7 separate regions of the Homo sapiens genome follow, and all the other regions are reported to be linked to region 4. Evidence: microRNA targets listed by miRTarBase, many of them from high-throughput screens and not tested one by one. Region 4 holds a microRNA gene; each other region holds the end of a gene's coding sequence.
What was found. Region 4 holds the annotated microRNA hsa-miR-302a-3p (UAAGUGCUUCCAUGUUUUGGUGA, at 2,800-2,822, opposite strand). A microRNA usually pairs through its seed, bases 2 to 8, with sites in the 3' UTR of a target mRNA and lowers its output. Matches are read on the target gene's strand: a 7mer-m8 pairs with bases 2 to 8, a 7mer-A1 pairs with bases 2 to 7 and ends in A, and an 8mer does both.

Region 1: miRTarBase lists MAPKAPK5 as a target of hsa-miR-302a-3p. The part of its 3' UTR that is shown has no 7-base or 8-base seed match.
Region 2: the mRNA of MELK is a reported target of hsa-miR-302a-3p. The part of its 3' UTR that is shown has no 7-base or 8-base seed match.
Region 3: miRTarBase lists ADAT2 as a target of hsa-miR-302a-3p. Seed matches in the 3' UTR shown: 7mer-m8 at 698-704.
Region 5: miRTarBase lists HABP4 as a target of hsa-miR-302a-3p. Seed matches in the 3' UTR shown: 7mer-A1 at 2,882-2,888 and 8mer at 2,476-2,483.
Region 6: the mRNA of MYH9 is a reported target of hsa-miR-302a-3p. The part of its 3' UTR that is shown has no 7-base or 8-base seed match.
Region 7: the mRNA of KCNA7 is a reported target of hsa-miR-302a-3p. Seed matches in the 3' UTR shown: 7mer-m8 at 1,876-1,882.

What each region holds. Positions count from the first base shown.
Region 1 is chr12:111,892,635-111,896,712 of GRCh38, forward strand. MAPKAPK5 (MAPK activated protein kinase 5) reads left to right here. Exons shown (of 14, transcript NM_003668.4): 14 at 333-4,078. The coding sequence ends at 427. Among named protein-coding and RNA genes, the nearest start is that of MAPKAPK5-AS1, 52 kb to the left of the region's middle.
Region 2 is chr9:36,676,521-36,680,598 of GRCh38, reverse strand. It overlaps MELK (maternal embryonic leucine zipper kinase), which reads right to left. Exons shown (of 18, transcript NM_014791.4): 18 at 2,917-3,439. The coding sequence ends at 3,262. Among named protein-coding and RNA genes, the nearest start is that of MELK, 110 kb to the right of the region's middle.
Region 3 is chr6:143,424,931-143,429,003 of GRCh38, reverse strand. It overlaps ADAT2 (adenosine deaminase tRNA specific 2), which reads left to right. Exons shown (of 6, transcript NM_182503.3): 5 at 320-392; 6 at 498-4,073. The coding sequence ends at 541. Among named protein-coding and RNA genes, the nearest start is that of ADAT2, 24 kb to the left of the region's middle. RefSeq lists an enhancer at 1,466-1,535.
Region 4 is chr4:112,645,387-112,649,386 of GRCh38, forward strand. MIR302A (microRNA 302a) reads right to left here and starts at 2,865; the gene lies at 2,797-2,865. It overlaps LARP7 (La ribonucleoprotein 7, transcriptional regulator), which reads left to right. Exons shown (of 13, transcript NM_016648.4): 3 at 965-1,065; 4 at 1,202-1,285; 5 at 1,405-1,569; 6 at 1,648-1,741; 7 at 1,813-2,163; 8 at 2,304-2,448. It overlaps MIR302CHG (miR-302/367 cluster host gene), which reads right to left. Exons shown (of 3, transcript NR_146092.1): 2 at 3,127-3,213; 3 at 1,334-1,582. It overlaps MIR367 (microRNA 367), which reads right to left and starts at 2,555; the gene lies at 2,488-2,555. It also overlaps MIR302D, MIR302C and MIR302B. RefSeq lists an enhancer at 3,485-4,000.
Region 5 is chr9:96,489,308-96,493,385 of GRCh38, reverse strand. HABP4 (hyaluronan binding protein 4) reads right to left here. Exons shown (of 8, transcript NM_014282.4): 8 at 2,050-3,404. The coding sequence ends at 3,348. It also overlaps a transcript of CDC14B not described here. Among named protein-coding and RNA genes, the nearest start is that of HABP4, 41 kb to the right of the region's middle.
Region 6 is chr22:36,278,948-36,283,025 of GRCh38, reverse strand. It overlaps MYH9 (myosin heavy chain 9), which reads left to right. Exons shown (of 41, transcript NM_002473.6): 41 at 241-1,746. The coding sequence ends at 358. Among named protein-coding and RNA genes, the nearest start is that of MIR6819, 5.9 kb to the left of the region's middle.
Region 7 is chr19:49,066,286-49,070,363 of GRCh38, forward strand. It overlaps KCNA7 (potassium voltage-gated channel subfamily A member 7), which reads right to left. Exons shown (of 2, transcript NM_031886.3): 2 at 1,112-4,078. The coding sequence ends at 3,778. Among named protein-coding and RNA genes, the nearest start is that of NTF4, 3.5 kb to the left of the region's middle.

The DNA.
Region 1 (4,078 bases), not on the chromosome of region 4:
GAGTTGTGTTTTTCTTATAGATGTATAGGAATTCTTTATATATTCTGGATATGAGTCTTTTGTCAGCTGTATGTATTACAAAGATCTTGTCTCTCTTTGTGGTTTGCTTGTGTGTTGTGAGCTTTGGATTTTTACTGCCAGGTTAGTGGAACTGTACAATTGCTACCTGAAAAATGGGGGATCTGAACTGCTTTTGATCAGTGGTGGGGGTGGTTCCCCCACTGGTGAGGGTGAATTTGATACTGGTAAGGTGGACCTTATTGGGTCTCTGTCAAGAGTCTGCCACCTCTCAAAGAATTTGAGGACTGACCTTGTTCTTTTTTTGCTTTCAGGTCGTGGATTCACAGATAAAGTAGATCGACTAAAACTGGCAGAAATTGTGAAGCAGGTGATAGAAGAGCAAACCACGTCCCACGAATCCCAATAATGACAGCTTCAGACTTTGTTTTTTTAACAATTTGAAAAATTATTCTTTAATGTATAAAGTAATTTTATGTAAATTAATAAATCATAATTTCATTTCCACATTGATTAAAGCTGCTGTATAGATTTAGGGTGCAGGACTTAATAATAGTATAGTTATTGTTTGTTTTTAAGAAAAGCTCAGTTCTAGAGACATACTATTACTTTAGGACTGTGTAGTTGTATATTTGTAAGATGACAGATGATGCTGTCAAGCAATATTGTTTTATTTGTAATAAAATATACAAAAATCACTTGCCAGCAGTAGAAAAAGGACCGACTATACCGACCTTTCTGATTAGTAAACAGTTGAATCAAGGACTCTGGATTCTGGTTTCAATTGCCCTGTGTGTTTATTTTCCACACCATTGCTAGATTAGCTCTACTGCCAAGACATTTTTGTGGCTGTCATTGCAGACTGCTTGCTGGAACTCACAGGAGGCACACTTGAGCTTGGGGAGCCAACTTCCATGATGGAAGAAGAGGGAGGTGAGCCCTCATTTCTCCTGCCCCCTAATTCCCAAGAGAAAAGCAGGAACATTTCCTTTTTGTCATATCTGTTAAAAGGGTACTGGTGTGTTTCTTAAATCTAACAGGGTTTTCTTTTGGGTTTATTCTTTTTTTTTTTTTTTTTTTGAGACAGAGTCTTGCTGTTGTAGTGGAGGCTGGAGTACAGTGGCACTATCTCCGCTCACTGCAACCTCCGCCTCCCAGGTTCCAGTGATCCTCCCACATCAGCCTCCCAAGTAGCTGGGATTACAGGTGCCCGCCACCACGCCTGGCTAATTTTTGTATTTTTAGTAGAGACAGGGTTTCACCACGTTGGCCAGGCTGGTCTTGAACTCCTGACCTCAGGTGATACGTCTGCCTTGGCCTCCCAAAGTGCTGGGATTACAGGCGTGAGCCACTGTGCCCGGCCTTGGGTTTATTCTTTCTTTATATGTTTGTTTGTTTGTTTGTTTTGAGATGGAGTCTTGCTCTTATCACCCAGGGTGGAGTGCAGTGGCACGATCTCGGCTCACTGCAACCTCTGTCTCCCAGGTTCAAGTGATTCTCCTGCCTCAGCCTCCCAAGTAGTTGGGATTACAGGCACCCGCCACCATGCCCGGCTAATTTTTGTATTTTTAGTAGAGACAGGGTTTCACCATGTTGGCCAGGCTGGTCTCGAACTCCTGACCATCCACCTCAGCCTCTCAAAGTACTGGGATTACAGGCATGAGCCACCAAGCCTGGCCTATTCTTTATATGTTTAACCGGAGCTTCCCTTTCCCCTTCCAGGAGGTCCTGCTTTGTCCTTTCCCCTTCCCTGCAGCCTTCACCAGCTCCATTACTCCTTATTTCTGTTCCCTGTTCCTCTGGTCCTGTTTTTGGAATAACTTGTCCGAGAAATTTACATATAATTAATTGAAGTGGGACTATTGGATTATCATGTAAGATGATCCAGTTTTGGTTTTTTTTTTTATAAGGCTGCCCTGTTTCTCTGTAATATGTCTGTCTGGGTTTTGTGTTGGCATCCTCTGGGCTGCATTTATCTTGTTTATTACCCTTCATTTTCAGGAAGCATGGTTTTGGCCCCGAGAGCAGCTGTTTGAAGGAAAAATAAGGCTAGGTCCTTTTTTAGTTTTCTGTTGTGAGTATGGGTTTCCATAACAAACCAATTTTCGTGTATATGTGTGTGTGTGTGTGTGTGTGTGTGAAGCAGTTTTTGGTGGGTACTTACGTTGGTACATAGAAAAGCTGGCAGGTAGACTCCAGCTCGCAGAGCAGAGGGAGAGGATAGTCATCTGTTATTCAATTTTTTCTCATCTCATTCTCTTCGATCAAAATTGATCTCACCAGCAACTTATTTTCTAACTCCTCCACTGTGCTGAGTAATTCCTCCACCCTGAATCTTCAGGGTGACATTTGGTTAGTATGCCCTGTATGTGTGTGACTGCCTGTGGGAATAGATGATAAAAAACAAGTGTCTTAAGAATTACCTTATTACATTGCTTCCTTTTTTTTTTTTTTTTTTTTTTGAGATGGATTCTTGCTCTGTCGCCCAGGCTGGAGTGCAGTGGCGCGATCTTGGCTCACTGCAAGCTCTGCCTCCCAGGTTCACACCATTCTCCTACCTCAGCCTCCTGAGTAGCTGGGACTATACAGGTGCCCGCCACCGCGCCCGGCTAATTTCTTTTTGTATTTTTAGTAGAGACAGGGTTTCACCGTGTTAGCCAGGATGGTCTTGATCTCCTGACCTCGTGATCCGCCCACCTCAGCCTCCAAAAGTGCTGGGATTACAGGTGTGAGCCACTGCACCCAGCCTACATTGGTTCCTTTTTATCTTGGAGAATTTAATTGAAAGATATTTTTTGAGATAAAGTTCACTAATCTTAGGTGACTGATAACTGTTATAAATGGATTTCCTGTAAGGAGAATATGTCTCCCCCCCACCCCCCACCCTGCTGCCACCAAGACAGAGTCTCGCTCTGTCCCCCAGGCTGGAGTGCAGTGGCTTGCTCTTGGCTCACTGCAACCTCTGCCTCCCAGGTTCAAGCGATTCTCGTGCCTCAGACTTCCAAGTAGCTGGGACTACAGGCACACACCACCACGCCCAGCTAATTTTTGTGTTTTTAGTAGAGACGGGGTTTCATCATATTGGCCAGGCTGGTCTCAAACTCCTGACCTCGTGATCCGCCCACCTCGGCCTCCCAAAGTGCTGGGATTACAGGCGTGAGCCACCGTGCGCGACCTGAATACTTTTCATGATGGCAAAATCTCACCGGCAACAGAAGAAAAACCAATGTTTTTAAATTTACTGACCAGAAAACTTGACTGAGAGTTGAATTAAGTGCCTGTTGTTGTGTTTTTCAGTGAAATGCAAATCTTACAGATCACTTCTTACAGTTAGGAATACTGCACTTGTTTGTGTAATATTAGAACAACTGTAGTTTTCCTATCTTAGGGCAGAGGTTCAGTATTCCATGGGGAGAAAAAAACAGTAATTATCTTTGTTACTCTTCTTCTTTAGAGGAATATTCTAGCATATCCATTATATCCATAACTTCTTAAATTTGTGACTTGGGTGTCTTCTAAAAAGGCTCAGGATGATTATTTTTTCCTTCAGTGTATGCTGAATTTTAGGTGCGATGGAAAAGGTATCCAAAGTGATACTCCCTTTGACTCTGAGCATCAGTTGCCCGTGTTTCAGTCACTTCAAGCTGAATTCATGCCCTCAATGTAAGTGCTGTGTCCAGACACATCCAAATGAGCACCAAGCTGGAAGTTTGTGAACACTCTGGAGGATGCCCCAGCTGTTGTAATGCAACAGCATACCTTGAAAAAAAACAGTAGCTCCCAAGGGACTCAGCATGGCTTGGTCTTCGAAGTGGAGTTTTGTTTGTGTATTCCTAGTCCAGCAGTAAATTCTGCTTTAACATAACTGTCAGGTTTGCTACTCGAAATTTGCACATAACTGGAAGTGAAACGATATCTTTCTCATATTTTTTGGCCTAACAAACACCTATACCTGTGGAAACATAACACTGTAAATATAATTCTTATAAAGCAGCAGGTTATGCTCTCCTGTTTGCCTACATGATTTATTAACCTTCTGCTTACTAAAGCCATTACTGGT
Region 2 (4,078 bases), not on the chromosome of region 4:
CTCAATAAACCTGATCCCCCAAAAGGATTTTAAAGTAAATGTGCTAAAGAACTCTAATTTAAAGATTACAATTGTCAGACTAGATGTTTATAAGAGAAAATAGAATATGTTGTCACTTACAGTAAGGCTAAGCAGTGCTTCATATATGTTTATATGTGATGGATCCCAAAGTCATTAGGGAAACGTAAATTAAAAGCAAATGAGATAGATACTACTAACACACTACAAGTGCTTCCATCATGTGTACTTGTTTCTTGCTGTGGCTAGGGTCAAAAACTTTTGAGAATCATTGTTTCAAACCACGCCACTTCCCATAGGGATAGAAGATTAATCATACCTCTATATTTTATAAAAATAGGTAAATTGGACTTCAGAAAATTGAAAACTTTTGTTCTTCAAAATACACTATCAAGAAAGTTAAAAAGCCCACATAATGGAAAAAACATTTGCATATCATATATTATATATATTATCATATAGCTGGTAACAGACATACCTAGAATATATAAAGAACTCTTACAATTCAACAATAAAAACATAACCCAATTTAAAATGTGCAAAGGATCTGAACAGACATTTCTCCAAGAAAGATATACAAATGGCCAAAAGCATATTAAAAACTGCTCTACATCATTAATCATCACGGAAAAGACAATCAAAACCACAATGCCATACCACTTTACACCCACTAGGATGACTAAAATTAAAAAAACAGATAACAAGTGTTTGACAGAATGTGGAAAAGTTAGAACCCTCGTACATCACTGGCAGGATCATAAAATGGTGCAGTGGCTTTGGAAAAACAGTTTGATAGTTCCTCAAAATGTTAAATGACCCAGCAATTCTGCTCCTAGGTATATATACAAGAGAAATGAAAACATGTCCACACAAAACTTGTATATAAGCATTCACAGCAGCATTCATAATAGCCAAGTGGAAACAATCCAAACGTCTATCAAGTGATAAATAAAATGTCACATATCCATACAGTGGAATATTATTCAGTTATCAAATGAAGTACTGATATATGCTACATTATAAATCTTGAAAATGTTATGCTACGTAAAAATAACTAAACCCCAAAGGTCTTACATTGCATGATTCCATTTATATGACATACACCAGTCAAATTCATAGAAACAGAAAGTAGGTAAGTGGTGGCCAGGGGCTGGGGGGTGGGGTATGGGGAGTGACCGGTAACAGGTATGGGGCTTCTTTTTGACATGATAAAAATGTTCTAAAATTACATTGTGGTGATGGTTGCACAACTATGAATATACTTTTATTTTATTTATTTTTTTGAGATGGAGTTTCACTCTGTCACCCAGGCTGGAGTGCAGTGGCACAATCTCGGCTCACTGCAACTTCCACCTCTCAGATTCAAGTGATTCTCCTGTCTCTGCCTCCCAAGTAGGTGGGATTACAGCCACATGCCACCATACCTAGCTACTTTTTTGTGTTCTTAGTAGAGACGGGGTTTCACCATGTTGGCCAGGCTGGTCTCAAACTCCTGACCTCAGGTGATCCACCCACCTCGGCCTCTCAAAGTGCTGAGATTACAGGGATAAGCCATGGCGCCCGACCTGAATACACTCTTAAACCCCCACTGAATTGTACACACTTTAAAGGGGTAAATCTTATGATATATGAATTACATCGTAACAAAGCTGTTGTTAAAATATTAAAAACCCTTTGACAGCTCTCCTTTGCCAAAACACTTATTTTAATGGGGCATTCAAGTACTTTCATGACTTATTTCCATCTAAACTTTCAATCCTCATCTACTGTCATTTCCCGCTTCCACTACCTTCTGCTTCTACCCCAAACACATAATGACATTTTATAATTCCCTGTCTTTGCACATATTGTTCTCTCAAAAATGTCATGTCCCAAGCTGGGGTGGTGGCTCATGCCTGTAATCCCAGCACTCTGGAGGGCTGAAGTGGGAGGACTGCTTGAGATCAAGAGTTTTGAGATCAGCCTGGGCAGCATAGTGAGACCCTGTCTGTACAAAAAGTAAAAAAATTTGCTGGGTGTGGTGGCGCACGCTTGTAGTACCAGCTACTTGGGAGGCTGAACCGGGAAGACTGCTTGAGCCCAGGAGGTCGAGGCTGCAGTGAGCTGAGATCACGCTACTGCACTCCAGCCTGGGTGACAGAGTGAGACTGCGTCTCAAAAAAAAAAGAAAGAAAGAAAGAAAAAAAGTCATACTCCTCACTCTTCTCTTTCTGCTGAACTCCTATATATCCTTCAATGACAAATGCTGTTTCTTCCAAGAATTCATTTCTAATTCCATGCAAAGTGGGTGGGTCCCGCTATGCTACAAATACAGTTAGTAAATCCTTGGGTTTACTAGACAGTAGCAGCTTCAGCCTGAGGACCTAATGCTTGTAAGCACTTAGTAAACATTTATTGAATAAATGAATGACAAAACATTCCCTTCACTACTGACCAGAAGGAGTGCTATTTTTTCTCCAACTAGTTTAATTGGTGAAATCCATACCAATATAACTTGAGTTCTAGCCTTTGGAGACCAATAAAATGAAATAAAAATACAAATTTGGGGCCAACATTGAGACTTAGGGAAATTACCATAAAGTAACATTTCAGGGGGGGTTCATAGTTCGGATACTTATCATTTGTTGACCAAACATACTTAAAGTCAATACTCTTTTATTCAACATATTAAATGTGTTGTTTAACTCTGGTAACCACAGCTGTGACAGTTAACGATCTCAATAAATCCTACTTAAATCAGACAGGAAAAAATTATGCAAATGAATTCTTATCTGTTTTTCTGCCCAAGGCATATTTGATAACAGATAAAACATACTCCAAATAGTCTCTACTTAATAGTCAGGAAGCCATTTGAGGTTTTATTTGGATCAAAATCAAATACAAAAAAGAGAAGCCTGCTATATTCACAAATGGTTTTATTTCAGAAAGAAATTACACATTACAAAGAGACATAGTTAAGAGCTTACATTCACATATGGAAGTGAATCTAAGAAAGTCAACAATTATTAATATACAAAACCACATGATTAAAAAAGACAGTAACATAATGACAGATGGGCTTGATTTAGATTCATACACAAAATAATATCTTTTGTTTAAAAACAAAGAGATATTGGTCTTAAGATAGCTCTTTAGAAACAAGTTGGTAGTTCCAATGAACTTTAAAATCAAAGCGATCATAACAGTCTTTATGTAGGCTGTATCACACCCACACTCATCCGGCAGGATGGAAGAATCCATCAATTATACCTTGCAGCTAGATAGGATGTCTTCCACTAATCTTTTGTAAACCCAGGCATCGCCCTTAAGCCGCTGCCTCCTGATACCCACCACATCGGGTTTTTGAAGCTGGCACACTTCTAATTCAAATTGCATTGTCACTTTCCCAAAATCTGACTGTGTTTGACACTTCAGTGTATAACTGTGAAAAACAAGATAAGAAGCTAGTTAGTAGGAGAACCATATTCTGTATAAGAGTTTTCTAAGCCTCTAGGAGGCCAGTGGAGGAAATGAACCATTATTTCATATTAAGCAATGTATTACTGTTTACAGTTTCCAAATGACCTAGCTATGCTTTAGTAATAGAGTATGACTGGTGTTTTCCCAGAAACTGAACTAGGATCCTAAGAATAAGCATGAAAAGGCTTTATTACAAGTCTCCCTTGCTCCAAAGAAAAGCCCCTGTTTCATAGCTATACATGCCATTCATGCTCAAGAAATCTGGCATTCTTTATGCAATCCTTTCAACGTGTAATCCGCAAACATTGGGCATTTCCACAACATTCACAACAAAGGAAAGCGCAAGAAAGATAATATTTCATGTGTGTGAGCCTTGTCAGAAACTTGTCTTTCATATAAATAAAGCTGAAGCCAGTAACCTGTCAGAAAGGCACGTGTGTTTTTGAGGTTTTTCTAATTAGTAATGAGAGATAACCTCTTATGACGATCATCACATCACTTTATGGCAGAAAGAAAAGCAGAAGAAAAAGCCCAAGGAAATGGTATATTCCCATAACTGAAACGTACGGCATTTATAGATAGAACTGCCGCATTATCTACT
Region 3 (4,073 bases), not on the chromosome of region 4:
CCAGCATTGTATAAATAAGGCATGGAGAGTTTAAGTGCCTAACCCAAGATCACAAAGCTGGTAACTTCTATAATAGTTAATGGATGAATAACAGTTGATTGGGAGTGATGCCTAATAACAGTTGATTGGGAGTAATGAAAAAGATGATATATCAAACATCTTTTGGAAGTGTACCTCCTTACCCATGTTACTAATATCCCCAAAGTTTATTAACATCTGAAATCTGTTTACATAATCATGTATATATATGTTGTTTTTATGGGATACAGCACACATTTTCATAGGCCTATGTTTATTCTCAACTTTCTCATTCCATCAGTGTATCCCTGGATATCGGGCTGAGGAAGCAGTGGAAATGTTAAAGACCTTCTACAAACAAGAAAATCCAAATGGTCAGTTTTCTGTTGTGGATAATGTCCTTCCCTTAAATCCATACAAAGAGAATCTGCTATGAGCTTACCTCTTCATTTTCTTTTTCTTTTCTATTCTTTTCACAGCACCAAAATCGAAAGTTCGGAAAAAGGAATGTCAGAAATCTTGAACATGTTCTGATGAAAGAACCAAGTGACCCAAAGTGACCTGGACAAGATTCATAGACTGAAAGCTGTTGACATCGTTGAATCATATGTTTATATATTGTTTTTAATCTGCAGGAAAATGGTGTCTCTCATCATTTGCTCTGTTAAGGGAACAAATTAGCACTTTTTAGAAGTCTGACAATTGTAAACAGTTATTAGCTTTTCCAGAAGCTGATTCCCATTTTAAGATGGGGGAAAATTAAGGTTTGAGGTTTTAGAAATTAGCAAGTAGTGCATACCCTTCTAGCCACAAGTGCCCAGTCCAGGCAAGTGCTGACTTCTTAGAGAATGTGTGGCCAGACCCAGGGACCTGGAGTGTGTTTGGACTGCAGTTTGCCACCCTGAGAACACCTTCTCCAGGACTGGCATTTCAGAATCAGATTCTTCATTTTTTGCAGCTACGATGTTCTTCCAGGGCACTGGGGGCTGTGACTTCTCTCTAAATTGTATATAAGTTGTGTATATAGAGACCATAATTATATGGTCCTTAGAAAAGACTTTGCTTTTATAAAGCATTTAGAAAAAATGCATACTTTTAAAACAAGTGCTTGAGTTGTCACTTAAAAATTATAGCATATTGCTATAATAAAACCTTATTTATGTCTTATTTGAAGATGAATAGTCTTAAAAGATAAAGACATAAATGGGACAATTGTTATTGAGCAAAAAACCAAATTATCCCACCCTCATGGAGCTTATATTCTAGCAAGGGGAGATGGATATGATAGATTACACAGTTTATTGGAGGACAATAAGAGTTATGGCAAAAAGCAAAAGGAACACAGGGTAAAGGGGATAGGTGCCATTTGGTGGTGAGAATGCTGACTGAAAAATAGAATGATCAATTTAATCTGAAACAAATGGTTATTTCTTTTATAATCCATATAATAAATTTAAAATCTAAAATGTAAAATTTTGAACACAACACTGGAAAGGGTATCCACAGCAGGAAGTCCCCAGTTCACCTCCATGACTACAGGGCAGCTTTGCACAGCCCTCTGGGCGCACTGTGTGCCTCTGCCCAGAAGGGGGCCTCGCCGTTCCACCAGAAGCTCAGCTCCAGGCCCTGGAGGGGCTGCTGCTCCTCAGTTGCATTTCTTCAGTAGATTCATTTCCTTGATGCAAAGCATCTGTATTTGTTGGTTCTGTCATTTGAGCGATGTCTCTGACTTGTTTGTTTTGAATTACATTACAGGCTGGAATGTAATTGTGGTGAAAGTATTTTTATATTGCTGAGAGTAGCAGCTAATCACAGTTACATGCTTCAGAGGACTTATAATTGCTTGGTTTTGTGTGTGTGTGTGTGTGTGTGTGTGTGTGTGTGTGTGTTTAACTGCATTTGAAAAGTTTTATGGAGAATATGCATGATTTTAAATCTGTGATAATGTTACATGCACCTTCAATTTCATCCACTTTAAAAATTATCTTCTCATTGAATTTTAGTGCTTCTACTAGTTTGTTCCTTTTTGCAGTTGGTCGTAATTCATTTCTGGCTTCTTATGCTTTCCTGCAAGCAGATTTCATTGCATTTATTGTGTTCATATCATTTTCTTGGGGATTATTTGTAGGACAACCAACCTGGAGTTTTGCCTCTCTAGAGTACCACCCAGTAAGTCTGGCTGAGCATCTTATGTCCAGTAGGTTCTTGGTAAACATTTGCTAAATGAAATTACTGATTGAAATTTGGGGAAAAGTGAATAAGAAGACTATCTAGGACAAAAAGCCAAAGCCGAAAATAGTATATGAGCATTCTAGCCCAGAGACTGTCGCTACTAAAAGAATGAAGGAAATAATAAAGTGATAGACAGGGAAGGATAGAAAAGACTTAACAATATACATATGTTCCGTCTTTGCTGTTTTGGAGAATGATGGATAAGTAGTGTTTCCTGATTCTGAAGCATAGCTGAACAATTTAATTGTGGTTTACCATCTTTTTGGTTCCCTCTTCAGTAATTAACCTATCGAAAATCTGTCCTAAATGTTTGGACTGGGGCACAGTTCCCTCCATCGCTTTGGGAGAAAATCATTAATATGGCATACTGCAGATTGGAGGGCAGGACCACTGAGGGTGTCATAGACATTAGCTCTATGGAATTCTGCTAGCAATTTCCAAGTGACAGTGAGGAATTATGGATATATGTTGAGGTCATTCAGCTTCCTGAGTACCACATTCCCCAGCTACTTAGACACGGGTTAAAATATTAAGATGTCCTAGTTCAACAGCTTGAATTCCATTGATTGATACTGATAGTGCCTGTCCAAGACACCAGCTGAAAGACTTGTTTTGTGTACAAAATAGTTCTGAAAGTGGTGAGATACAAAAAGGTTTTAGAATCACTGCCCTGTTGAGAGAAATTAGGGGGAAATGATTACATTTAGAAGCTGCTAGAGTTATCCAGTGTTTGCTGGTCTTTGCAACAAACTGTGGAGAATGGGTGGTATGTAATGCTTTGGTAGGCTTCAATCACTGATAAAAGATCATGTTAAAATATCTTTGTGCTTTCTTGTTACTTGGCACAACCATCTCTTCCTGTGTTGTATTTGGAGTATCATGGAGAGAAAATAGATGGCCAAGAGCTTCAGTGTAGGCAAGAACTCTTAATTTTTCTTTAAACTTTTTACTGGGAAAAGTATATATATATAAAATACACACACACACACACACACACACACACACACACACACACACACAAACACAACACACCATGGCCCTTTACCCCGAAATGCTTCAGTATAGTTATTGACTTAAGTAAATTTAACATTGATATACTTGAATCTATCATTTGTATTACAGTTTTGTCAGCTGACCCAATAATGTCCTGTAAAGAAGTTCTCCCACTACCCTATAATCCCAGGTCCAGTCTAGGGTCCAGCATTACATTTACTTGTCTTGAATCCAGCTTTTTCTTTTTTTTTTTTTTTTTTGAGATAGGTCTCACTCTGTCGTCCAGTGGCATGATCACAGCTCACTGCAGCCTCAACCTGGCTCAAGCAATCCTTCCTCCTCAGCCTCCTGAGTAGCTGGGACCACAGACTCATGTCACCACACCTAATTTTTTTTTTTTTTTTTTTTTGTAGAGACAAGGTCTCACTATGTTGCCCAGGCTGGTCTTGAACTCCTAGGCTGAAGCAATCCTCCTTCCTTGGCCTCCCAAAGCACTGGGATTATAGACGTGAGCCACTGCACCGGTCTGCCTTTAGCTTCTTTTAGTCTAGAACATTTTCACTGGCTTTCTTTGTCTTTTATGACATTGACATTTTTAAATAATACAGTCATTTTGCCTCCTTTCTGTTTTCTTCTTCTTTTTTTAAATAATAGAATGGTCCTTGTTTTAAATTTATTTGATATTTTCTTGTGATTAGATTCAGGTGCTGGTTGATGTTAAGTTCCTCACAGGATATCACATCTGGAGGCACACAAAGGCCGTCACACCAAGGTGATGTCAATTTTGGTCATCTGGTCAAGGTGTTGTCCTATTCCTTCACTATATAGTT
Region 4 (4,000 bases):
AAATCAAAGCTTTTAAGTATTTTGGGATTTAATTGCTTCAATAACCATTCATCATGTGTAACTCGAGAGTGCTATACTTTAGTTCATACAAGAAGGCATTTCACCTAGCTCAATGTTATTTTTTGTTTCATTTTTTTGAGGCAAGGTCTATCTTTTTTCCCTAGGCAGGAATGCACTGGCTCCATGTCTGCTCACTCCAACTTCTGCCCCCACCTCCACCCCCTCAGCCCCACCCAAGCGATCCTCCATCAGCCTCCCCAGTAGCTGAGAACACAGGCAAGCATCACCAGGCCGGCTTTTTTTTCTGGCATTTTTAAGAGATATGGGGTCCCACCATGTTGCCCAGGCTGGTCTTGAGCTCCTGAGCTCAAGAGATTTACCTTCACCCCTGAATTGCTGAGATAAGAAGCATTGAGCCACCATCCCCAGTTGCTAAATTTCAAATAGCCAACCTTGTGCTTGTTTCTAATAGGATGGGATCCAGATGTCCTCTTTGAATGTCTGGGTATTGCTAATAATTTGTGTTCAAATCTTAATCTGCAGTTACATACACTAAAATGTGTCATTTTAGGTCGCCAAATATGCAATGCCATTTAGACCCTCATACAGTTTTTTTTTGTTTGTTTTGTTTGAGTCTCTTTCTCCCAGGCTGGAGTGATCTCAGCTCACTGCAACCTCTGCCTCCTGGGTTCAAGCGATTCTCCTACCTCACTCTCGAGTAGCTGGGATTACAGGCGTGCACCACTACACCCAGCTAATTCTTTGTATTTTTAGTAGAGATGGGGTTTCACTATGTTGGCCAGGCTGGTCTTGAACTCCCCCATCCACCCGCCTTGGCCTCCCAAAGTACTAGGATTACAGGCATGAGCCACCGAGCCTGAGGGCCTGAGGGGCAGGTTAAATTGTACCAAATTGAATTAATCCTGCTGATACACTAACATATTAACTTTTTCATTTTCTTTAGATGTTGATATATCACTACTTGTGTCTTTTAACAAAATGAAAAAATTGACTACTGATGGGAAGTTAATTGCCAGAGCATTGAGAAGTTCAGCTGTTGTAGAGGTAAGAATCAAGAATAACTACTGTTTATATTTATAGTTTATAATTATAAAGAATGTTAACGTAATGATTATTATATGATTATAGCTTACAATTATAAATAATATTAGTTTTATTAATGTAATATACTATTTTAAAGCTTGATTTGGAAGGCACCAGAATCCGGAGGAAAAAACCTCTGGGGGAAAGACCAAAGGATGAGGATGAACGCACAGTGTATGTGGTAAGCTTAAGAACCCGGGTCCCCAGTCAGAAACTGGCACAGAAACAATATAATTAAGTTAAAAATTTATTGACATTCTGATTGTGAAAAACTCTAATATTGCTTTTAATTTATAATAGGAGTTACTTCCCAAAAATGTTAATCACAGCTGGATTGAAAGAGTATTTGGGAAATGTGGCAATGTTGTTTATATAAGTATACCACATTATAAGTCTACTGGAGATCCAAAGGGATTTGCGTTTGTGGAATTTGAAACAAAAGAACAAGCAGCAAAAGCAATTGAGGTAAGTCCAGATCCTAAAAAAAAAAAAAGAAAGAAAAGAAAACAAGTATTAAAATAGTAACTTTTGCAATCATTTCAGTTTCTTAACAACCCACCAGAAGAAGCACCAAGAAAACCTGGCATATTTCCTAAAACAGTGAAAAATAAGCCCATTCCAGCCTTAAGAGTTGTGGGTGAGTATTTTTCAATATTTAAATAGGTGTAGTTGAAGTAAGATGAACTAATAATGATGGCACTTTTACAGAAGAGAAGAAAAAGAAAAAGAAGAAGAAAGGCCGAATGAAAAAGGAAGACAATATCCAAGCCAAAGAAGAAAACATGGACACAAGCAACACCAGCATCAGTAAAATGAAAAGATCCAGACCCACATCTGAGGGCTCTGACATTGAGTCCACTGAACCCCAAAAGCAGTGCTCAAAGAAAAAGAAAAAACGGGACAGAGTTGAAGCATCTAGCTTACCTGAAGTCAGAACAGGGAAGAGGAAGAGAAGCAGCTCTGAAGATGCAGAATCCCTAGCTCCCCGATCAAAAGTAAAGAAAATTATTCAGAAAGACATCATTAAGGAAGCATCAGAAGCTTCCAAGGAAAATAGAGGTAAAACTACAAGGTTTTAATTAGATAAAACTAATTAATTTTAATTAATTAGTTTTTAATTAATTAGGTTTTAATTGGCTTCTGTTTCACCCATTTCACAGCCCCATGTCTTAACGGAGAGCTTTTTTATTTATTTCAAGATATAGAAATCTCTACTGAAGAGGAAAAGGATACTGGAGATCTAAAAGATAGCTCTCTCTTGAAAACAAAAAGGAAACATAAGAAAAAACATAAAGAGAGACATAAAATGGGAGAAGAAGTTATACCATTAAGAGTGCTATCAAAGTAAGTCTGTGGTTTAAATTCTGTCATTGGCTTAACAATCCATCACCATTGCTAAAGTGCAATTCCAATTTATATTCAACAGAGTTGCATATTAGCAACAGTAATGGCCTGTAGCCAAGAACTGCACACAGTGTGGGCGTTAACGCAATTGCTGATTAGGTAGGAACCACCACACTCAAACATGGAAGCACTTATTTTTGTCATGTCACAGCAAGTGCCTCCATGTTAAAGTAGAGGGGGCCCCTTAACAGATGTAAAAATACAAAATAAAGCTTAAATATATGAGCTGCGGTCAATACAATAAAGTTATTTTCTAAAAAAATAATAAAAATGTAAAAGGAAGACTTACCATCACCAAAACATGGAAGCACTTACTTCTTTAGTTTCAAAGCAAGTACATCCACGTTTAAGTGGTGGGGAGCCCAGTCTTGGAAAAAGTTAGAATCCTTTAACCTGTAACAAGCTTAGTAACCTTAAAACACAATAACAAAAAAATTTTGTAACAAAAGGTGTGCTGGCTTGGAGACACCTCCACTGAAACATGGAAGCACTTACTTTTGTTTCACACAGCAGGTACCCCCATGTTAAAGCAAAGGGGATCCCTTCAAATGAGGTTAGCGTGTTCTATTTTGGAGAAGTAAATTGGATTCACTCCTACTAAAACATGGAAGCACTTACTTTTAAAGTCACAGAAAGCACTTCCATGTTAAAGTTGAAGGGAGCCCACCCAACATACAACTTCTTTGGACTTCAGAGTATTTAGAGCTGAGGAGAAAGAAAACAAAATGGCATAACTTTAGAAGAAAAAAATTTTTTTACCTTCCTGAACTAGTTCCCAAAGATTCGTGTTCTCCTCCAGAAGGGTAAAAGGCAGGGACTTCAGCCACTTCTATTTATACTATTCTTAACTCTTGAATTCCTTTTGCCTTTTTATCTCAGAGAATCATTACAAGGGCCTTTTGTTATTTTAATGTATCAGCTCTCAGGGAATGTATGATCCTGGGTGGGTCTGGATCCTTTTTTTTTTTTTTGAAGTATACAGATGTCAATGTTAACAGCTAAAACCATTACCACAAGATATCTTCCTCTTAAAAAAAAAAAAGAAAAAGAAAAAGAAAATCTCCTATCTGCTTGTTTGATGGCATAGATTAGGGTAACAATGAGTGCTCCCACTGAGCCGAGAAAGGCATTGTGTTTCTATCTGGAGGAACTCTGTTTGAAGAAGCATCTACATGTTAAATGTATGTAAATAAATAGATTGCTTCCACGGGGTGTTTTGTTCTACTTAGAAATTCTTTTTGATTCAAGTAAATACTAAGGAATGTTATCTCTCAAATTGGAAGCAGTTTAACAAATCTTTAATCTCGCCCTTTTCCCACAGAGATGACTGATTTAGTAAATGTTACTAGTTAAGGAATTAATGCTAAAATTTTACTTTTATAAATTAAAATACTTCAGACACTCAAAAATTTAATTGGCAATCTTAAAACATTTAATCTGAATATTGGGGGAAGAGGAACTCCCTTAGCTTATTTTGCTAAATGTCTTTAGA
Region 5 (4,078 bases), not on the chromosome of region 4:
GTTGTCTGAAGCAGGCATGAGTGTCGGGAGGGTTCAGGGAAGGCTGTTCACATGGGCCACGGTCCTTGCAGAAGGCTGAGAGGAGACAGCAGCAGCCAAAGAAAATGAGCAAATCTGTCTTCTGTGTCTACAGCGGAGGCCGCCATGTGGAGAGAGCAGGCAGGCCCACTGCTGCTGAGAACAGGGCAGGCACGGGCAGCTCCTGTTCTGCCTTTCCCAGCTTCGGAGACGCAGGCTCAGCTGCTCCGAAGCACCTGCCAGCACCGCACAGTACAGTTTCAGAGGACAGCAGTCTCCTTCCCGTGAAGCTCCCATGTGCTGGAATGGCATGGACTTGCTGATCAACAGAAGGAAATGGTCTGAAGTCTGACCAGCACAAGGAAGGAGGCTGGCTGGCTCAGAGGGGCCCACCTTGCGTGGAATGAAAACGCCAAAGGCTCATGAGCAACATTAGGCTAGAGGGGTCTTGTTCAAAGCATCCAACTCTGACTTCGGAGGCATTCCCAGCCGGCAGCAGTGTGTCCAGCCTGCCTCTTCCCAGGCTGGTCTGACATGCAGCTTAGGCTTTCATCCCAAGTTAGGTACTGACCCCTCCCTCTTGGGCAGCACCTCCCTTTTTAAAAAAATTTTTTTTTCTTCCAAAGACAGAGTCTTGCTCTTGTTGTCCAGGCTGGAGTGCAGTGGCGCGATCTAGGCTCACTGCAACCTCCTTCTCCCAGGTTCAAGCGACTCTCCTGCCTCAGCCTCCTGAGTAGCTGGGATTATAGGCGTCTGCCACCACGCCCGGCTAATTTCTGTATTTTTAGTAGAGACAGGGTTTCACCATGTTGGCCAGGCTGGTCTCGAACTCCTGACCTCAAGTGATCTGCCTGCCTTGGCCTCCCAAAGTGCTGGGATTACAGGTGTCAGCCACCGCACCCAGCCAAGCACCCCTATCTCTAGAGGATCTGGCCCCCCAGCCCAGTTACTGCAGGGCAGCTTTCCCCACCTGGTGACAGGCTGTGCGCAGCAGCCCCAGGACCTCACCCTGAGCTGAGTCTTCAGGAGCCGCCCTGGTGGCACAACTCAGACACCCCTGAGGCCTAGCAGTCAACTCCTGATTCAGACATGATCCAGTCCAGCCTGGGCTTGGCTATAACCAGCTCAAACTTGCTTGACCTCCACTTTTCAGGAGACTTGGGGACGACAGCCCTCATCGGCGTCTTTCATGGGGTTAATCTGCTTGAGTCTAAGTCGCCAGCCAGAAACGTGGTGCCCAGGGTGCCCTGCCTCAGGACATGTCCACACCCACGTCACAAGCACCTGAGGAGTCCGGCCGGGGCACTGTGGTCCAAAAGGTCCTGCCGCCTCCGCATCTGACTGTCCCAACGGCATGCTGGTGACACCCCCCTGCCCTTCGCTTCTGTCCTCCCTGGCTTCTCTGGGGCACTTGGGGCTATGTACAACCTGGCACGATCCAGAAAGGGTGCAAACAAAATGCCTACATCCAGGCACACGACCAAGTCAGCGAGAGCTAGCCCTGGTAAGCAAACATAGCCCATTACAGGTTCAGAACGTGCACCGGGTTCCCCAAAACTGTCTTCAACCACATGACTCAACAGCTCTATGGGATAGGAACTGTCAGTGTTTTTGCAACTGCAACATTAAACCAAGTGCTGTGGGCTTTTCAAGTATTATTCACAACACTAAAGGAAAGTTTCTTCAAAGGGCTCTCTGGCTAATCTTCAAAGCCGCAGTTAGGCAAAATGACAGTGTGACAGCTTCAAAGCCACTGACTCATGACACAGCCCTGATGTTGTACCGGCTAGGTTCAGATTTCAGAAATCAGGGCACTTGCATCCATTGCCTTTTCCAGGAAAGGGAAGAAAACACTCAGTTGATAAACCTTAGTACTCAGATAATAAATAAGAGACCAAAAGTAGGCTATCACCCAAAGCAAACATCCTTAACTGACCCTAACGTGTATGGATTCAACTTTGATTATTCAACAAAATCATGACCGACTGCTGTGGCCTGGAGTAACCAAAGGACTGTTTTCTCTACACAAAGTCAGGAGCGAATACCAACCTTTATTTGCACTTGGGTTCCAGTTCAAAGCCACCTTAGACAGTGTGGCAAAGTGGGAAAAAGCACAGATCCTGGGACCAAGGTTCAGATTCCATCTCAAGCGAGCATATGAACTGTGTGACAACAGGCAGACAGTACCTCTGTGTCTATGAGAAAGCGGGGAGAGCAACACCCCAGCTTCTAGCAGCTCTACAGCTGCCTGGACCTGCAGGCCCTCCTAGGCCCACTTCCTCCCCAGCACAGTGTGTGTTCCCGGGCGTGTGTGGCTCTGGGTCCAGCTCTGTTCAGGGTGGGACTCCAGGTGAATTACTGAACCTCTGAGGTGTACCCCCAACCCCAAACTTTCACCAAAAGCAATAAAGAGGAACTCTAGAACTGGAGCCAGGACTAAGTGAGAAAAACTGCTTATAAGTGCTTAATAAATACTAGTTATTTACAACTTTTGCTCAAGCCGAGGGCAGAGGCCTTTGTACGCAGCTGCCGAACTCTGACTCTAGTTCTGCGGAAGAAAAGGATGCGGTATTTGCTTTTGCCATGATCCCTTTCCATTTGATTGGCAGGTTAAATAACATGGTTTTTGAAGTCACATACTTAATATTCTTCCTAAAAACCACCCAAACACTAGATGTGTGTGTGCACACACACAGAAACCACGAGGTAGTTTAAATCACCATTAAAAATCAACGCTTTCTCTGATTCTGTGTCACAGAGTGGTGGCCAGTGGCTACACAATAGCGATTTTTAAATGATTGGTTAAGTGAAAACCAGAACTCAAAATATTCCAGGAGAGAAGATAACATTTACAAGTAAACAGTAAGTGCAATTGTATTTTAATTTCTTGGTCTCCGAAAACTCAGCTGTGACTGCTTTCCATTAACAGTTCCAGCTCTATGTGTTTCCTCTAACGCTAAAGGCACAGCCCCCGGGAATCTACTGCTTCCTAAGAGTCTCCATGGAGTCTATTTTACAACCTCCTTTCCCTCCATGCTTCCGCGGAGGAGTCTATACTATCTCTATATACACATTTTAAACATTATTCTTCATTTGAAATTCCTTCAATAAAAACACAGTCACCATTCTTCATCTTCTTGGGAAATGGCCTGCTCTCGAGCCTCTGGAGAAGCCCCTCTAACAGCTCAGCCCAAAAAAGTGCAACAAATTTACATGACACGGGAAAAGCAACATCTATTGTTCTTAGAGTCTGACTCCCTTGGCCCAGCTGGAAAAGTCTCCCCACAGGTGTGCAGTGCAGCTCCGCGGTGCTGGGAAACAGGGCTCTTTCAAGACAGCGCAGGGAAATCTTCCGGGTCATCTGGGTTGGGGGCAACATCTTGCATCTAAAGAAAAAAAGAAATACTTTGAAATCCACTGCCCCTTCATCCATTCCCGATATCCCAGTGGGATAACAAGGGCCTGGCACCAACGCTGAGGGGCCTGCATTAGAGGCAGGACCCACAGTGGGAAGGGGAGAGTCACAGGTCACTGCTAACCCAGGAAAGTACAGCTCCCCCTCCCACACAGGCCTCCAGCCTCCTCGAAAAAGGAGCTGCCTCCCTTCCTACGTCCTGCAAGCTCTTACTGGGGGTTCTGCATGGGCACGTCCTTCATCGAGTAAATAGAATGGTTACTGCGTGCCGGGCACTGGAGGAGCACAGACAGTGCCTATCCTCGGGGAGCTCACGGTGCTGGAGAAACTGACCATCGAATCAGGAGCTTCACTAACACGTCCTGGGAAGGAGGGGCCACAGGAGGGCCATCCAGTGCAATTTGGTGGCACAGTGGACACCAAGGTCAGGCAAGGTTTTGTGGGAAGAGAAGGTTCTCCCTGGGATGAACCTCAATGGATGAGCAAAGGGAACAAGGACTTGGATTGGGAAACAGTGTGACCTGATGGGGGCGGGGGCGGGCCCTAAGGGCGGTTCTGAGGTGGAGGGATGCACAGGTTGTGGAGGTGGGGACAGATGCCAGTGAAGAGGTGGGTGGCACTGGATCTCAGAGTGGTTTCCCAACA
Region 6 (4,078 bases), not on the chromosome of region 4:
ACTGTTGTGTGTGAAGATGTCCGACACCTAAACATTTTGCGGGAAGCTTTGCCTGCTTTCCTGAGAGTGGTCCTGTCTAGCTCAGCTGTGGCTCCCAAGACTCCACTTTGCTTCTTTCTGGTGGGAGCAGCCAGGCACCTGGTTTCCCTCTCGAATTCACTTTGAGATGTGTGGGCTGTGCTGTGGCCGCCCCTGGCCTGGCCGGGCCCGCTGACCCTCTGCTTCTACCTCTGCCCCCAGGCGCGGGGACCTGCCGTTTGTCGTGCCCCGCCGAATGGCCCGGAAAGGCGCCGGGGATGGCTCCGACGAAGAGGTAGATGGCAAAGCGGATGGGGCTGAGGCCAAACCTGCCGAATAAGCCTCTTCTCCTGCAGCCTGAGATGGATGGACAGACAGACACCACAGCCTCCCCTTCCCAGACCCCGCAGCACGCCTCTCCCCACCTTCTTGGGACTGCTGTGAACATGCCTCCTCCTGCCCTCCGCCCCGTCCCCCCATCCCGTTTCCCTCCAGGTGTTGTTGAGGGCATTTGGCTTCCTCTGCTGCATCCCCTTCCAGCTCCCTCCCCTGCTCAGAATCTGATACCAAAGAGACAGGGCCCGGGCCCAGGCAGAGAGCGACCAGCAGGCTCCTCAGCCCTCTCTTGCCAAAAAGCACAAGATGTTGAGGCGAGCAGGGCAGGCCCCCGGGGAGGGGCCAGAGTTTTCTATGAATCTATTTTTCTTCAGACTGAGGCCTTTTGGTAGTCGGAGCCCCCGCAGTCGTCAGCCTCCCTGACGTCTGCCACCAGCGCCCCCACTCCTCCTCCTTTCTTTGCTGTTTGCAATCACACGTGGTGACCTCACACACCTCTGCCCCTTGGGCCTCCCACTCCCATGGCTCTGGGCGGTCCAGAAGGAGCAGGCCCTGGGCCTCCACCTCTGTGCAGGGCACAGAAGGCTGGGGTGGGGGGAGGAGTGGATTCCTCCCCACCCTGTCCCAGGCAGCGCCACTGTCCGCTGTCTCCCTCCTGATTCTAAAATGTCTCAAGTGCAATGCCCCCTCCCCTCCTTTACCGAGGACAGCCTGCCTCTGCCACAGCAAGGCTGTCGGGGTCAAGCTGGAAAGGCCAGCAGCCTTCCAGTGGCTTCTCCCAACACTCTTGGGGACCAAATATATTTAATGGTTAAGGGACTTGTCCCAAGTCTGACAGCCAGAGCGTTAGAGGGGCCAGCGGCCCTCCCAGGCGATCTTGTGTCTACTCTAGGACTGGGCCCGAGGGTGGTTTACCTGCACCGTTGACTCAGTATAGTTTAAAAATCTGCCACCTGCACAGGTATTTTTGAAAGCAAAATAAGGTTTTCTTTTTTCCCCTTTCTTGTAATAAATGATAAAATTCCGAGTCTTTCTCACTGCCTTTGTTTAGAAGAGAGTAGCTCGTCCTCACTGGTCTACACTGGTTGCCGAATTTACTTGTATTCCTAACTGTTTTGTATATGCTGCATTGAGACTTACGGCAAGAAGGCATTTTTTTTTTTTAAAGGAAACAAACTCTCAAATCATGAAGTGATATAAAAGCTGCATATGCCTACAAAGCTCTGAATTCAGGTCCCAGTTGCTGTCACAAAGGAGTGAGTGAAACTCCCACCCTACCCCCTTTTTTATATAATAAAAGTGCCTTAGCATGTGTTGCAGCTGTCACCACTACAGTAAGCTGGTTTACAGATGTTTTCCACTGAGCATCACAATAAAGAGAACCATGTGCTACGAGCCGTGTCTGTAGCATTTGTCTGCGGCCAGGGGGCCCTGGACAGGACTAGGCCTGGCTTCTGCAGCCAATGCCGGCTCTGCATCGTCGGGAACCAGATTGGCTGAGGCGTAGGCTGAGCTAGCTGTGGGCGGTTGTGCAGAAAAGCTAAGATGGAAAGGTGGGCTAGGCCAGATCCAAGGAGGCTAAGAGCATCTTAGAAACCTTGGTTCAAGGCCGAGCACGGTGGCTCACGCCTGTAATCCCAGCACTTTGGGAGGCTGAGGCAGGGGGATCACCTGAGGTCAGGAGTTCAAGACCAGCCTGGCCAACATCTCTACTAAAAATACAAAAAAAATTAGCCGGGCGTGGTGGTGTGTGCCTGTAATCCCAGCTACTCAGGAGGCTGAGGCAGGAGAATCGCTTGAACCCGGGAGGCAGAGGTTGCAGTGAGCTAAGATTGTGCCACTGCACTCTAGCCTGGGCGAGAGTGAGACTCTGTCTCAAAATAAATAAATAAAAAAATTTAAAAAAGTGGACACTATCTGGGTCAGCTTAAGAAGGTGACCGATTTTTGGCAAAACAGCTGCATGCACATTCCCTGGCCCTTAGCTTCCTATGTGCCACCCTGCCCTGTCACCCTGGGCAAGTCACTCCCTTCCCGGCTAGCTTCCTTGTCTGTTAAGTAAAGTACACTGGATCTTTGCTGCTGGATGGCGGTCCTTGCACCAGAAGCGTTGGCTCCACGTGAGAACTGCTTAGAAACTATTTCAGACCCCGCCCCCAACCCTCTGAATCCAACTCCACTTTAGCAAGACAAGATCTACAAACGATCTTCATGGCATTTTGTCAGAATCTTTTTTTTTTTTTTTTCCCTGAGATGGAGTCTCACTCTGTCACCCAGGCCGGAATGCAGTGGCTCAATCTCAGCTCACTGCAACCTCCGCCTCCCAGGTTCAAGCTATTCTTCTGTCTCAGCCTCCCGAGTAGCTGGGATTACAGGTGCCCGCCACCATGCCTGACTAATTTTTTTGTATTTTTAGTAGAGACAGGGTTTCACCATGTTGGTCAGGCTGATCTGAAACTCCTGACCTCCAAAGTGTTGGGATTACAGGCGTGAGCCACCACACCTGGATTTTTTTTTTTTTTTTTCTGAGACAGAGTCCCTGTCACCCAGGCTGGAGAGCAGTGGAGCGATCTTGACTCACTGCAACCTGTGCCTCCCAGGTTCAAGTGATTCTCGTGCCTCAGCCTTCTGAGTAGCTGAGACTACAGGCGTGCACTACCACACCTGGCTAATTTTTGTATTTTTAGTTGAGATGGGGTTTTGCCATGTTGGCCAGGGTGGTCTCGAACTCCTGACCTCAGGAGATCCACCTGCCTCGGCTTCCCAAAATGCTGGGATTACAGGCATGAGCCACCACACCTGGCCGTTTCACCCCATTTGAACCTTAGTTTTCTCCTCTGGGAAGCCAAATTAATAAATGTTTTTATCACAGGGCCGTCGTTGAAGCATGTATGACTATGTGTGTGAAAATGTTCTGCAAACCAAAAAGGGCTCAGGTGCTATAATTTTTTTTCTGCAAAGGTTGGGCTTTGAAAGGACTTTAATTAAAGATTTTAACTGTAAGATATTCATAACCTAAAATTGCCTTTTTAACCATTTTTAGGTGAACAGTTTCGTGGAATTACATTCACATTGTTGCACAACCACCATCATCCACAGAACTCTTCTCTTGCAAAACTGACACTTTGTACCCAGTAAACATGAACTGCTCATTCTCCCTCCCCCAGCCCTTGACAACCAACACTCTGCTCCTTATCTTTATAAATTTGACCACCGTAAGAACCTCACATGAACGGAATCATACAGCATGTGTCCTTTTGTGACGGGCTTATTTCACTTAGCAGAATGTCCTTAAGGTTCATCCTTGTTACAGCATGGGTCAGAATTTCCTTCCTCTTTTAAGGCGGAATAATATTCCCTGTGGGTACACGTACCATTTTGCTTATCCGTTCATCTGTCAATGGACACCTGGGTTGCCTCCACCATTTGGCTATGGTGAACGATGCTGCTATGAGCATGACTGTACAAATATCTGGTCAGGTCCCTGTTTTCATGCTGTTGGGTATATTCCCAGAAGTGGAATTGAGGGATCCTATGGTAATTCTATGTTTAAGTTTTCAAAGAACCGTCATATAGTTTTCCACAGCAGCTAAGTGCTATTATTTTATTTATTTATTTATTTAGAGACAGAGTCTCGCTCTGTCACCCAGGCTGGAGTGCAGTGGTGCGCTCTCAGCTCACTGCAACCTCTGCCGCCCGGGTTGAAATGATTCTCCTGCCTCAGC
Region 7 (4,078 bases), not on the chromosome of region 4:
CAGGTCACCTCTCCGGCTTCTCCACCCTTCCCCTGTTCCTAAACAGCCAATACATCCTGCCGCATAGCAGGAGGACTCTAGCTTCTAGCTTCTAGCTTCTAGTCCTGGAGGGGATAGTAGGGATGAGGTTTCCAAACAGAGTGACTGGGAAACAGTCTCTGTCCCCCTATCTCCAGGTCTCTGTTCCCCTCCCTCTGGATTTCTGTCTCCCTCCAACTCTGGGTCTGTCCTTCTCTCTCTGAGTCTCTGTCCCCCTCTCTCTCTGGGTCTCTGTCCCTCTCTCTCTGGGTCTCTGTCCCCCTCTCTCTCTGGGTCTCTGTCCCCTTCTGTCTGTGGGTCTCTGTCCCTCTCTCTCTGGGTCTCTGTCCCCCTCTCTCTCTGGGTCTCTGTCCCCTTCACTCTCTGGGTCTCTGTCTCTCTCTCTGTCTCTGGATCTCTGTCCCCCCTCTCTCTGGGTCTCTGTTCCCCCCCAGGTCTCTGTCCCCCCTTCTCTCTGGGTCTCTGTCCCCCTCTTTCTAGGTCCCAGTTTTCTTCTCTCTGGATATCTGTCCACCCTCTCTGGGTCCCAGTCTCCTTCTTGCTGAGCCTCTTGCATCCTCTCTCTTGGGGTCACTGTCTGCTTCTCTTTCCCCTCGTGGGGGTCTCTGTTCCCGCTCCCGGCCATCTGCCCTCTTCCCCCTTGCCCTTGGATTTCTCTCTTTTGCTCTGTGCCTCTCCTCCCTCCTGGCCTCAGTTCCTGTCTGTGTCTCCTCTTTAGGTCTCTGTGCTGGAGTCCAACCTGTCTCTTGTCACTGTGAGGTCCGTCTCCATTCTGTCCCTAAATCTGGCTTTCTCTCCATTTCAGAGAGAAGTGACTACCTAAAGCTTCTATTAATTTCAACCATTATCAAACTCCTCTCACCATCTGTACCTTCTCTTTAGCTGTATGAAAAGGTGCTCAGATGAAACCAGGGGTTTCCACACTGAATTCCTGAGCTGCATTTTGAGTTGCCAAGAGGAGGCGTGTTCTCCTCCAACCAGTTCCCTTCCCATGCTTCCCACTGGTGTCTCTAAGGAAGATTTATTTGACCCAAAAAAGGGGTGGGTATGGCTAAAAATAACAACAACAGTCTGTAAACCACTGGATAGGTTTTAATAAATTAACCCAAGTAAAGTACTTTGATACCAAAGGAAGCCCTATATGTGTTAGTGATTTCAGCCTTCTTCCTCTAAATGCCCTTTGAGTTCTGAAAGATTTCTGAAAATGTTCGGCCTTGTGACCTTGGGTAACACCTGCTGCTCTGAGCCTCAGTTTCCCCGTCTGTAAGAAATGAGGCTACGGGACTCAGGAGGACCCGTGTGTCCCAGCAGGCTGATGGGGACATGTGAAGCAGACAGACAGCCTGCCTGGCCCCTGGGGACAAGCTGTGAGACCTTGGGAAGCCACTCCCCTGCTCTGAGACTCAGGTTTCTCCCCTGGAAAACAGAGTGAGGCCCCCAGCCTGTCTGACAGCCTTCCTGAGCTGCAGGGAGGGTAGGTGACAGGCCTGGTTCAGGATTGTTCTGTGATTCTATGGAATAGACTGTACATCACTCTTGGGTTCAGGGGCACCAACTTTTTCTGGCTTTTTCTTTTCTTTTCTTTTTTTTTTTGAGACAGAGTGTTGCTCTGCTGCCCAGGCTGGAGTGCAGTGGCGCAATCTCGGCTCACTGCAAGCTCCGCCTCCCAGGTTCATGCCATTCTCCTGCCTCAGCCTCCCGAGTAGCTGGGACTACAGGTGCCCGCCACCGCACCCGGCTAATTTTTTTGTATTTTTAGTAGAGACGGGGTTTCACCGTGTTAGCCAGGATGGTCTGGATCTCCTGACCTCGTAATTTGCCCACCTCGGCCTCCCAAAGTGCTGGGGTTACAGGCATGAGCCACCGCGCCCGGCCTTTTCTGCCTTTTTCTATTGTGGTTCTCTTTCCCTGAGACTCTGTTGTTCTGTCTCCAACTCTGGGTGTCTGACGCTGCCCTCTGGGTCTCTGTCCCTCCCTCCCCCACTGGCTCTTTTTGTTTGTTTGTTGAGACGGGGGCTCCCTCTGTTGCCCAGGCTGGAGTGCAGTGGTGCAATCATGGCTCAATGCAGCCTCTACCTCTCAGGGTCAAGGGATCTTTCTGCCTCAGCTTCCTGAGTAGCTGGGATCACAGGCATGTGCCACCACACTCAGCTAATTTTTGTATTTTTTGTAGAGATGGGGTCTCACCATGTTGCCCAGGCTGGTCTTGAACTCCTGGCCTCAATCAATCCCCCTTCCTCGGTCTCCCAGAGTGCTGAGATTACAGGCATGGGCCACTTCGCCCGGCTTCTATCCCCTGCTCTTGGTCTCTGTCTCCCCACTCTGGATTTCTGTTCCTCTCTTCTGCGTCTCTGCCATACCCCACCCTCCAGGTCATTGTCTCCCTCTCCCTGAGTCTCTGTTTCTCTCCCTTTGGGTCTCTGTCTCTCTGGGTTTCCACCTCTTCCTTTTTCTGGGTCTCTTTCTCTATCCTTTTGGCTCTGTCCCTCTATCATGTCTGGACAGAGTACAGTTTTCTCCCCCTCTCCCCTTTCCCTTGTGGCTCTGACCTCCATGTCTGAGCATAAAACTGTAGGGGAGAATGGGAGTGAACAGCACAATGAAGTGGATGTGGGGTAAACAGGAGGAGCATCCACCTCTTCCTAATTTACCCAGTCGCCTCTGGATGAACACCCAATCCCATGGATACAGAATCCAGTCCCGCCCCCTACAGCGAGCTGGGGAGCCAGCTCGGCACACCTCCCAGAGCCCTCGCCACTGCATGCTCCCAGATACATGATGCTTCCCCACTGCTATTTCCTTTGGGTCCTGGTGCTACCACTAAATGCAAAACAGCCCGATGTGGCCCTATGGAACTCGTTCGCACAGTCCAACTCAACCCAACTTCCTGTAGGACTCACATAGTGACACAACTCAATGGAACTCAATTCAGCATGGCCCTATGAGACTCAAACAGTGGCATGACCCAACTGAACTGGCCTTACAAGGCTCATATGGTTGTACAATTCAACACAACTCAACTCGCTGTGGCCACGAAAAATGTCCAGCCACACACCTCTACACAGTTAAGCCCAACAGAACCCTACAAGATTCATTTGGTCATACAAACTTAACCCAATGTGACCTAGAAAGCTCAAATTCTACCACTGGACTCTTCACATTTCTACATGACTCGCAAGTTCACAGAACCTAAAATAACATGCCCCTGGAAGAATCACAGAGCTACACAATTTCCACCATGTCTCAACGAAACTTAACACCACACACATTCGATCTCAACAATGCCATGGGGGACCATCTAACTTGACCCAACATGGCCCTAGGGGACCCACCAAACCACAGAATCCTACACAATGCAGCTGGACCACACTATCCCAGACTCACAACCCAACCAAACCCAACACTGACCTAGGAAACTCACAAAATGATACGACCAAACCTATCTCAACACTACCCCAAAAGGCTCCATGAGCTTTGCACAACTCAGAGTAATATGAACCAATTGAGTCTTCATTAACACAACACAACCCATTGCCATTCGCTGCTGCTTCAGGAGGTACCCACAGGAGCTACCAAACCACACAACCCAAGACCCAACAAGACTCAGTGTTTCCCCACTCGTTACGACTTAACCTAGCTCTTCCTAAACCCAATCCCCTCCCCCCAGCCTTGCCCTCCACCCTGCCCTCCCTCCCTCCCTCTAGGGAGGTGTGAGGTCCTGCAGACCTCAACTGTTCCTCACACTTCGGTGACCAGGTGTTTCCCTGGGGGTGCCCAGAGTGGAGGTGGTAGCTCAGGTACCTCCCCGTCCACCAGCCCCCCATTGGCCTTGCCCTCCAGTGGGCCACAAGGCTGCATGTCCACATGGCTGAACATCCCAGCCTCTTCGCCCTCTGTCTCCCGGTGATAAAAGTAGCTGAAATTGGAGACAATGACGGGCACTGGCAGGGAAATAGTCAGCACGCCCGCAATGGCACACAGAGAGCCCACTATCTTGCCACCCACAGTGACGGGTGCCATGTCTCCATAGCCAACTGTA